Linked DNA regions of Homo sapiens. The protein of the gene in region 1 purifies or fractionates together with the protein of each later gene. This does not show direct contact. Each region holds a gene or a part of one and is shown in the gene's direction. Other genes may lie near its edges.

Region 1 (3,653 bases):
CAATCTTTGCAGTTGGGAGGAGGGAATGCAACTGGCAACTAGTGAGTGGAGGCCAGTAATGTTGCTATACATCCCACAATGCACAGGACAACTCCCCCCAACGAATGATTATCTGGTCCAAAATATTAATAGAATTAACAGAAGTTGAGAAAGCCTGTTTTAGACAAATACCTTTGCAGCACAGAAAGAAAAAACATCAATGGTTTTTGTTTTGCCCCCCCCTTTTTTTTTTCTGAGGCTTTTTTGAGGCAGGGTCTTACTCTGCTTCCCAGGCTGGAGTGCAGTGGGCTCAGGTGGTCCTCCCACCCTAGTCTCCCAAGTAGCTGGGAGGCTACTTGGCCAGGCGCACGTCACCATGGCCGGCTAATTTTTGTATTTTTTATAGAGATGTTTCGCCAACCTGGGTTTCGCCATGTTTAACAGGCTGGTCTTGAACTCCTGGGCTCAAGCAATTGGCCTGCCTTGGCCTTCCAAAGTGCTGGGATTACAGGCATGAACCACCACGCCTAGCCTAAACCAATGCTTTTAATATGAATATGACTAACACTTAAAATCTGAAAAATCTCACTTCGTGAATCATGGGCATATATTTTAAACAGCTTTATTGCGGTATAATTTATAGATCATAAAACTTGCCCACTGTAACTATGCTGCTTTTGAGTTAATGTATGCAGTTGTGCATCCATCACCACAACCCAGTGTTATGACTTCTTCCATCCCCGAAAGTTTCCTCTTGCCGTGAGTACCTTTTTTTTTTTTTTTTTTTGAGACGGAGCCTCACTCTGTCACCCAGGCTGGAGTGGAGTGCAGTGGTGTGATCTCAGTTTACTGCAGCCTCCACCTCCCGGGTTCAAGCAATTTGCCTGCCTCAGCCTCCTGAGTAGCTGGGATTACAGGCAAGTGCCACCATGCCCTGTTAAATTTTTTTGTATTTTTAGTAGAGACGGGGTTTCACCATGTTGGCCAGGCTGGTCTCAAACTCCTGACCTCAAGTGATCTGTCTGCCTGCGCCTCCTGAAGTGCTGGGATTACAGGCATGAGCCACCACACAAGGCCCATGAATACCTTTTTAAAGTGATATTTTGTATCAAATTGGTTGTTGGTTTGCAAACAGAAACTAAATTAGAAATATCTTTTTGGCAAGGCTTCAGATAGGCAATATTGTCACAGCAAAGTACAAAGCATGGAGGGAGGTGGATAAGATGTTGTTTTAAAAGATCAGTCTTTAGCCACATAAGTTTATTGCATACAATTGTATCCTGTGGTGACTTCTCTAAAATGCGGTAAGTGTCATAAAGCCAAGCATACAAAGGAAAAAATGTTTCATTTGGCAGGCACAATACAAAAAGCCTGAGAGAAAGATGTCCAAATTTAATTCTGTATCCTCAGAAATTTTCAGGGAAGATGGAAATTCAAGCCTGCAAAGCCTTCAGATTGCAATTTGTAGTTTTATATAACTGAGAAAGTGTTTTACAGGGCAAAACAGCAAAATCTGCTGAGGACTGTTTTGTTTTAGGAAGTGTGTGCTTGGAAATAGCGATTTGTGATATAGCGCTGTTTAAGGTTTTTGTTTTGTTTTGTTTTTAAAAATCATCTGGCAGATTTAAACCCAGTTGCCTCGGTGTTAGCCAGATTTAATTCTGCGGTTGTTAAGTAAATCCATAGGGTCTGATCCATCATGGTGACTATGGAGGGTGAAATATAAACTTTCCTGTAAGATGCCTGGGAGCAGTCAGCACATCTGCTTCTCAGATGAATACTCCGTGTAGTGCCAATAAAATTAGGATTTTCAAGGCTCAGTGGCTTCTGATTTAGTTAGTCTGTCGTTAAGAGAAAAGTGGCTATTTAGGAAAAATTGTCAACAGTTTCCTACTCTTGCATGCTGCTTTTCTGCTGTGGTCATCTGATTCAAACGGGGAATTAGAACAGGCACATTGGCTACTCACACATGGGGAGAGAAGGAGGGGAATCCTTGCTTCTTTCCCTCTATGCTGGGTGCCTTTGGGCAGCGCCCCCCTTTTCTTTTTTTTGAGACGGAGTCTTGCTCTGTCGCCAGGCTGGAGTGCAGTGGCGTGCACTGCAACCTCCACCTCCCAGGTTGAAGTGATTCTCCTGCCTCAGCCTTCCGAGTAGTTGAGACTACAGGCCCCCGCCACCACGCCCGGCTAATTTTTGTATTTTTAGTAGAGACGGGGTTTCACCATGTTGCCCAAGATGGTCTCGATTTCTTGACCTCGTGATCCGCCCACCTTGGCCTCTCAAAGTGCCGGGATTACAGGTGTGAGCCACCGCGCCTGGCCGGGCATCGCCTTAACTGCCTAGTTTCAGTTTCCTCCTTGGTGAAGTAGGAGTCCAGGTGCCACCTCATTGACTTATTGTGAAGATTAAATACTTCAGGATATATGAAAGTTCTTGGAACCTAGGCATTCCACAAATGTCTATTTAATTTTATTTGTAAAAAACGTTCCATTGGTATTAGCAGTTTGTGTGTTTGCCAAAGTGTTATGTCTCACGACATTTGATTCTTCTACCCGGGGAAAGTGGAAGGTAAGGGAGTTCATTTTACTAGCAGGGAACTGAGACTCAAAGAGGTTAAGTGACTTCTTCAAGCTACAGTGGTTACTCATGAAAGCGTCTGCCCAAGTAGATCCTCTTTCCTATGCACCATTTTGCCTCCTCTTCCAAAACTTTCGCATGGGGTAGAGGGGGTCGCTTTTCTTCCAAATGGTTTCTTGAGAGGATTACATTTGTTTTAGGCATTCTGCTGTCGTTTGAAATTTATTGTACTCCAATTGAGAGGTATGTTCAAAGGATTTTCTAGTCCATTGAACCTGTGCAGGCCATAAAGTAAACAAAATAAGCATTCTTTATTACTGGCCCAGGACAGACATATACATGCTCTTGATTGTTTTAAAGTTGACAATCAAGACTGGTCACTGTGCTGGCCCAATAGAATTCTCTGTTGAAGAAAGATGAAAGAGACACCTACTCAGGCTATAGAAGGTGCCAAATGTGTCAGAAAGTTAAGAAATTGACTGTCTTGAAAGTTTAGAAGTCCAGCTGGGCACCGTGGCTCCCCCTTGTAATCCCAGCATTTTGGGAGGCTGAGGCAGGCGGATCGCTTGAGCTCAGGAGTTCGAGACCAGCCTGGGCAACACGGTGAGACCCGGTCTCTACTAAAAATACAAATATTAGCAGGGCGTGGTGGCTTGCACCTATAGTCCCAGCTACTCAGAAGGCTGAGGTGGGACGACTGCTTGAGCCCAGGAGGCAGAGATTGCAGTGAGCTGAGATCATACCACTGCACTCTAGCCTGGGCAATGGAGTGAGACCCTGTCTCAAAAAAAAAAAAAAAAGATTTAGAAGTCCCCCAACCAGTTTATATAAGACGGTTCACACAACAGTATCTCAACATGATAAAAAGGAGTCATTAAAAAAAACTTTTAGTTGCATTACACATAAAGGGCTCAAATCATGTTTATAGCGCAATTAATTTTTACATGTGTATACATCTATGCAACTGCCACCTAGATAAAGCTGTAGGACATTTTCAGCATCTCAGAGGGTTCTCTTGTGCCTCCTCCCCACTCCTGGTAATCCTTATTCTGACTTCTATTACCAGAGATTAGTTTTGTCTGTTCTTAAACTTTACA
Region 2 (3,653 bases), on another chromosome or scaffold:
AGAGAATATTTTTGAAAAATATTAGCAATAGTTTCTGTATGTTTCTTTTTTCATCACAGGTTCTTTCTTGCAAGATTTTCTTTCTATATGAGTAAATTAAGGTTACATCAGACAAGAACATCTTCTGACTTCTTGTTGTAACATGAGCGGTAGCCAATGGTAAATCTGACAGTGTGAGAAGTATTAAACATTAAATGCTTTAATATACTATGTCATATAGCATAGGTGTAAAATAAAAGACCCAAATACGTAAGAGAGTTGTTGAAAACAACCATTGTGTTGCCTTATAACTGAGAGTTAAAACTTGGATTTCTTGGGGCCAGAATATCTAGACATTAATTATGCATTTTATGTGCATTATTTTTTGTGTACAATTCTGAGTATACTTTTTTAATTTTGTGATAGTAATGTGCAGTATTAAAACACTTTAAAAATTAAAATTTCTGCACTTGTTTTTTTTAAATGGCCAGCCAAAAAAGCTTCCAAATTTCGAGACTGGTTGGACTGCAGCAGTATGGAGATAAAACCCAATGTTGTCGCAATGGAAATCTTAGCATATTTAGCGTATGAAACTGTGGCACAGGTAAGAATTCTAATCTGTCATATCGGGCCACACTGGCTGGTTTTTCTTTATCTCTGCCCATGATCAATTCTTCTTCTCCCTGCTGCTCTACCAGTAATAACAGCCATGAATTCTCTCCTGTGGCATTTACATCATTTTCTAAAATTTAGTTCAGTTATGTGTCTCTGCATCCTCAATTCAAGTGGATGCTAGGATAAAAAAGAGTTCTTGTACCTTTATCTTAATGAGAAATGGAATCCCTGCATGCTTTTTCTTGACATTGAACTCAAATCCACATCTGCCTTGTTTAGAGATTATTTTTGAGCTTTGAAAAACACCTTTCTACGTATGTGAGAATTTAGGAGTACTTACCAAATTCTGGGTCTGGAATCTCGCCCTCTAAAAGACTTTCTCAAGATGTGGTCTTTAGACCACAGGCATCAGCATCTCCTTGGTTCTTGTTTAAAATGCAAATTCTGGCCAGGCGCGGTGGCTCTTGCCTGTAATCCCAACACTTTGGGAGGCCGAGGTGGGTGGATCACCTGCAGTCAGGAGTTCAAGACCAGCTTGGCCAATATGGTGAAACCACATCTCTACTAATAATACCAAAAAAAAGTTAGCCGGGCATGGTGGCGGGCACCTGTAGTCCCAGCTACTCAGGAAGGCTGAGGCAGGAGAATCATTTGAACCTAGGAGGCCGAGGTTGCAGTGAGCTGAGGTCGCACCATTGCACTCCAGCCTGGGCAACAAGAGCGAAACTCCATTTCAAAAATTAATAAAATAAAATAAAATAAGCAAATTCCTAGACTATATGCTTAAAACAGACCTACTGAATTAGAATCTCTGGACTTAAAGCCCAGAAATTTGCACTAGTGACTGTGAAATAAATTTTGAGAACTACTCTCCTAAAAAGTCAGAATATATCATGACTAGGTCCATTCACCAGTCAATGAAAGTGTGTGCTCATGTCTACAATATAGATTTTTAGGCAAGCAGGATTATCAGTAACATTCAGAATGTATTGCTTTTAGGTTTGCCACTTCAGTGGCATTCATGATTATTTCTAGCTATGTGACTTTCATTCTTCTGGTCTTCTAGTTAGTGGATCTGGCTCTTCTTGTGAGGCAAGACATGGTAACCAAGGCAGGGGACCCCTTCAGCCATGCCATTTCTGCAACCTTCATTCAGTATCACAACTCTGCTGAGGTAAGTACAAAAAAAATCTGTCTTAAAACATTTGTGAATTTTGACACATATCTGGTATTTACATTAGTGATTCTTTAATAAAGATTATGCAGGAGTGTATAACCTTCAGTCAAAGAATCTTAATACATTAGACATTCAAATAAGTATTTAATTGAGCACCTACTGTGTGCCAGGCCCTGACAGTCCACTTAAGACAATGACTTTTTTCACGTTTTTCTTGCTTCACTTAGCTTTCCTACCCCTTCATTGAAAGGGATAGTTGCAAGGCATTTCTTATTTTTATGGGAGATGAAAAACTGGTTTAGGTAATGTTGGAAAAGTCATTTATTTCTTTGTGCTTCAAAAGATAAGAGGGTTATCATTATTATTCACAAAATAATCCCTGGCATTTATTGATAACTTTCCATTTCAGTTATTGATTCATCTCTAAAAATGATTTAAAGAAGCTTGTCTTCATTCATCTTGAGTTTTTAGATTGCCCCTACTATGTGAAAATTATATTCTTTTCTGATCTGGCTTTGCTATGGGAACCGTAAAGTTTTCTTTCCAATTTTAAGGCTCTGTATAATAACTGTGCACCACTTTTAGTATACAGAATCTCCTCTGTAAACAGCATCTACCTCAAAACCAGAAATGTATTGCAGTGTCTTGAATGTATTTGCCAATATTCGACCCTTTTCACTAACAAAAACAGCAGTTTCACGTAATTCAATCGAATATCCATAGATAAGACAGCAAGAAGGTTAAGTTCGCATCTACATGTAGAGTTGTGAAGTACGTTTTGGATCAAGTTGGTTGAAATATATAACCTGAAAATGGCTAAGCTCTGTTTTATAGCCATACCTTGATTACACATTTCTACTCCTTGTTAAATATCTATAGGCAAGGATAGTGGTTCAAATCATTTCTAAGAAGTAGTTGTAATCTTCTTTAGGTCACACACCCCTTTGAGAATCTGATGAAAACTATAAACCCTTTTTCTATAAACACATTCACAAATTTTGCCTACAGTTTCAGATTGTTCAGAGACATTCTGAAGCCATTCTATGGATCCAAGGGATCTGTGAACCCTATGGACCCTAGGTTTAAATTTCTCTGCTCTAGGATACATAGAAAATATGTTAACATATATGCCCATATAGCATCTTATTACAAACAAAAGGACAATTCAACATTTTCTTATGCCCCTTGGAAAATCAAATTGGCTTGGAAACCAAATAGGGATTAAAATGTTTATGCCCATTAAAAATCCATTTTTTTCTTAGAAAAGGTCATACATCATTATCAGTCAACATACAAAAGTCCCTAAAGCTTACTTAGTTGATTAATCACTATTTGTTTTCTTTATGTTACAAACCCAAATTATGATGTCAAAAAACCCCCTTTAAAATGTCTTTGATGTTTGTTCACTTTATGAATATGTGTATAAGTATGCTTTCCATTAACATCAGACAAATTTGTTATAACATTTCTAATTGAGAAAATTTACTGTGAACACAACGGGCCTAGTTTTCTTTTAACATTCAAGTGATTGCTTGCATGCCTAGGAAAACTCTTTATTTCCCCTCTTTTCTTGGTTCTCCAGGGTGGCCAAGCTGCCCTAGGCAACTGCTCAGCAACCGCAGCCGCTGTTCCCAGCTACCCAGCAGTTGAGAGGAATATCCTATATGTGCTGGATTTCCTGGGCTCTCTGGGAGGTGGGAGCATGAGTGTCAGAGAGCCTCCTGACAAAATATGTTAGTATAAGCCTCAAACTTTTTTCTGGCTGGCAGACACCCCTCCCCTCCTGTGACTGGTAGTCAAGATGAATATTCAGAGACTGGAAGTCTTCCTTCCTGCCCTTTATCACTTGACAAAATCAGCAGCTAACATCAAGGGCCTGTAC
Region 3 (3,653 bases), about 10 Mb from region 1:
AACCCAGGAGGCGGAGCTTGCAGTAAGCCGAAATTGTGCCACTGCACTCCACAGCCTGGGTGACAAAGTGAGACTCCATCTCAAAAAAAAAAAACAAAACAAAACAAGGAGGAGTGTGTGAAGGAAACTTTTTGGCCCATGCCTAGCTATGGCTCTTATCTCTTCTGATCACTTTCCCCTGGAGAGAACTTGTCACATGACCATACCCGCCTGCAAGAGAGCCTGGGAAGTACAACTGGACAGGCATTGCCTAGCTGCCGTGGAGGAAAGAAGAGTATGGCATTCGGACAGCTAGCATCTCCGCCACAGCAGGCCTAGCACACTGCCTGGTGCGTTGCAGACGCTTCACAAACCTTAGCTGTTCATTACCATCATTGAGTGTTAATCATTTCTCTTCTGTGTTCCTTTTTCTTCACATCAGTACGAAAATAAAAGGGATTTCTAGAATGATCAAAGCAATTTGGGATTGGTATGGGAAGGCTTCCCACGGTAGGTGGGATGGGAAAGATAAAAGGATATTTCTGGTGTTTGAAGACTGTCAGTGTAGGTCAGAAAGGAGCAGGAAAGTGGAACAGCTATTTTTCCTTCCACTCATTTTTGTGGTCTTCTAGGAAAATATTATTTCCCCTATGGAGGATTCTCCTATTCCTGACATGTCTGGGAAAGAATCAGGGGCTGACGGGGCAAGCACCTCCCCTCGCAATCAGAACAAGCCCTTCAGGTGAGTGGTGTCCTATCCACAACCCACAGTCTGGCCCCCGCTTCTGTTGGCTTCTCTCCATCTCAACCTGGGGAAGTCCTCATCAGTAAGAGGCTGGGGGCAGTTAGGTGAAGCCTAATAGCAGTCTCAAGTGTGAGTGATGACCCAGCGTGTCTGCATGCACAGACTGAGTGCAGGGTTGTTCAGCACAGAACTGTTCATACCATAAATAACCCAAATGTCCTGCTGAAGGGGAATGGTTGGCTAAATTGGCATAACTCCATATGATGAAATAACTTGGGGCTATTAATCATATAGCTGCAAGTATAGAGAAATATAGTTAAATGACATGAAAAGATGTAAATTATAGAGTGACAAGTGGAGAAAATATTAGTTGTAGCCCAGTATGGATGGTATAATACTATTTTTACTTAAAATATATTTCTTTTTTTCTTTTTCTTTTTTTTTTTTTGAGATGGAGTCTCGCTCTTGTCGTTTAGGTTGGAGCGCAATGGCGCAATCTTGGCTCACTGCAACCTCCGCCTCCCAGGTTCAAGCGATTCTCCTGCCTCAGCCACCAAGTAGCTGTGATTACAGGCGCCTGCCACCATGTATGGCTCATTTTTGTATTTTTAGTAGAGACGGGGTTTCACCATCTTGGCCGGGCTGGTCTTGAACTCCTGACCTCAGGTGATCCTCCCACCTCGGCCTTCCAAAGTGCTGGGATTACAGGTGTGAGCCACCATGCCTGGCTTACTTACAATATATTTAAATATGTGCACATAAGGGAAAAAACCTGGACTAATATGTAGCAAAAGATTAGGAATAATATATAACAAAATCTGGAATATATATAATAATATATAACAAAATAATAGTAATTCTCTCTGGGTTGTTGGCATTATGGGTTTTTCCATATTTTTTGAATAGTAGATACATACGTTGCTTGTTTTAAAAACCAGACCAGATGTGTCTGTCCCTCCCTTTGTATCTGGATAGATACAGAGGGGGTGCCCAAAGGGAAAGGCAGGTTTTCACTGACCTTGGGAAGCCCTGGGAACCTCCAAGGTGGGCCCTTCTCCAAGCTGGCTCTTGAGTCTGACGGGCCTGCCTCCCGCTGCAGTGTGCCGCATACTAAGTCCCTGGAGAGCCGCATCAAGGAGGAGCTAATTGCCCAGGGCCTTTTGGAGTCTGAGGACCGCCCCGCAGAGGACTCCGAGGATGAGGTCCTTGCTGAGCTTCGCAAACGGCAGGCTGAGCTGAAGGCACTTAGTGCCCACAACCGCACCAAGAAGCACGACCTGCTGAGGTGAGCGTTAGCAGGATGCACAGTCCCGGGGGTGGCCTTGGAGGCTGTGGCCACGGCTAGTCACCTTTCAGGGGTTTTACAACAGGCTTTCCAATCCTGGCTGGCCTCTAAATCACCTGGAGAGCCTCGAAAAAAACAGCAGTGGCCAGTCCACCGGGTATGTCCCAAACAAATTCTGATTCCACAGAGTGGGGCTCAGGCATCTGTGACTGACCGATTGATTTGATTTGTTTTTGTTTTGTTTTTTTTTGAGAGGGAGTCTCGCACTGTCACCCAGGCTGGAGTGCAGTGGCATGATCTCGGCTCACTGCAAGCTCCGCCTCCCAGGTTCATGCCATTCTCCTGCCTCAGCCTCCTGAGTAGCTGATACTACAGGCACCCACCACCACGCCCAGCTAATTTTTTTGTATTTTTAGTAGAGACGGGGTTTCACCGTGTTAGCCAGGATGGTCTCGATCTCCTGACCTCGTGATCCACCCGCCTCGGCCTCCCAAAGTGCCGGGATTACAGGCGTGAGCCACTGCGCCTGGCCTAGTTTGGTTTTTTAATTATGGTAAAGGCATAATATAAAATGTATCTCCATGGGAGGCTGAGGCAGGAGAATCAGTTGAACCTGGGAGGCGGAGGTTGCAGTGAGCTGAGACTGCACCATTGCATTCCAGCCTGGGCAACAAGAGTGAAACTGCATCTCAAAAAAAAAAAGAAAAAAAATTTACGCTTCTTAACCATTTTTAAGTGTACAGTTTAGTAGTGTTACCCATATTCACATTGTTGTGTGATTTATTTTTTGTCTTTTCATGCTTCTTTTCTTTTTATCCCCAAAGTTTTGTTATTAAAAATTTGATACACACAGAAAATCTGAAAGAATCATACAATAAACATCAGTATATTCTCCACCTAGACTAATTAACTGTTAACATTTTGTTGGAGATCTGTGATTTTTATTTGCTCATCACAAGAAATTGACCAGTGTTTTAGGACATGTTCTTTTGGGAATCCATCACAGTGCCTGCCATTCATTTGATGTCAACTCCCATCCATCTTGTTCTGCATTGATCACGAGGGTATAGGTGACATCTTGAGGAAGACTGTGGAATAGCTACCCTTTAGGTAAAGAGATAGGGAAGCAACCCGAACAAGTCTCTTTGCTTCTCACAGACAAGTGCTGTGTCTTAACTTCATAGAGCCCTGACAGGACAGGGCACATTCATTCATTTGGCCTTTTTTTTTTTTTTTTGAGACGGTGTCTCACTCTGTTGCCCAGGCTGGAGTGCAGTGCCATGATCTCGGCTCACTGCAACCTCCGCCTCCCGGGTTCAGGCAGTTCTCCTGCCTCAGCCTCCTGAGTAGTTGGGATTACAGGCATGCACTACCATGCCAGGCTAATCATTTGGCCATTCTTACTGTCTCTTAGATATTGTGCTGGGGGCCAGCAAGAGAGGCAGAGCAAGGGACTTGCAGATTACTAGCAGATGATCAGTAAAGATAAGTGCCATTAAAAGGAGAGGTAGTTGCTGACAAGCTGCCAGGGTATTTAAGGATAAGAGTGACTAATGTATGCTGAGGGCCTACTGTGTGTCAGGGGCTTTATGTACACTCTCTCAAGTGTCTTGACAACAACCCAGGAGGGAGGAGCTATTTTCG

The links.
Region 2: the proteins of KAT2B (region 1) and SUPT3H purify together in Homo sapiens (affinity purification with mass spectrometry; 7 studies listed by BioGRID and IntAct, with this or other methods). This does not show direct contact.
Region 3: the proteins of KAT2B (region 1) and TADA3 purify together in Homo sapiens (affinity purification with mass spectrometry; 10 studies listed by BioGRID and IntAct, with this or other methods). This does not show direct contact.

Annotation. Positions count from the first base shown.
Region 1 is NC_000003.12:20,046,860-20,050,512, forward strand, and holds part of KAT2B (histone acetyltransferase KAT2B), read left to right. Parts: intron 1-3,653. UniProt on the Homo sapiens protein: Functions as a histone acetyltransferase (HAT) to promote transcriptional activation. Has significant histone acetyltransferase activity with core histones (H3 and H4), and also with nucleosome core particles.
Region 2 is NC_000006.12:44,951,425-44,955,077, reverse strand, and holds part of SUPT3H (transcription initiation protein SPT3 homolog), read left to right. Parts: intron 1-470; coding exon 471-583; intron 584-1,660; coding exon 1,661-1,768; intron 1,769-3,653.
Region 3 is NC_000003.12:9,782,384-9,786,036, reverse strand, and holds part of TADA3 (transcriptional adapter 3), read left to right. Parts: intron 1-611; coding exon 612-721; intron 722-1,823; coding exon 1,824-2,009; coding exon of another isoform or gene 2,010-2,013; exon of another isoform or gene 2,014-2,911; intron 2,912-2,928; exon of another isoform or gene 2,929-3,025; coding exon of another isoform or gene 3,026-3,056; exon of another isoform or gene 3,057-3,653. UniProt on the Homo sapiens protein: Functions as a component of the PCAF complex. The PCAF complex is capable of efficiently acetylating histones in a nucleosomal context. The PCAF complex could be considered as the human version of the yeast SAGA complex.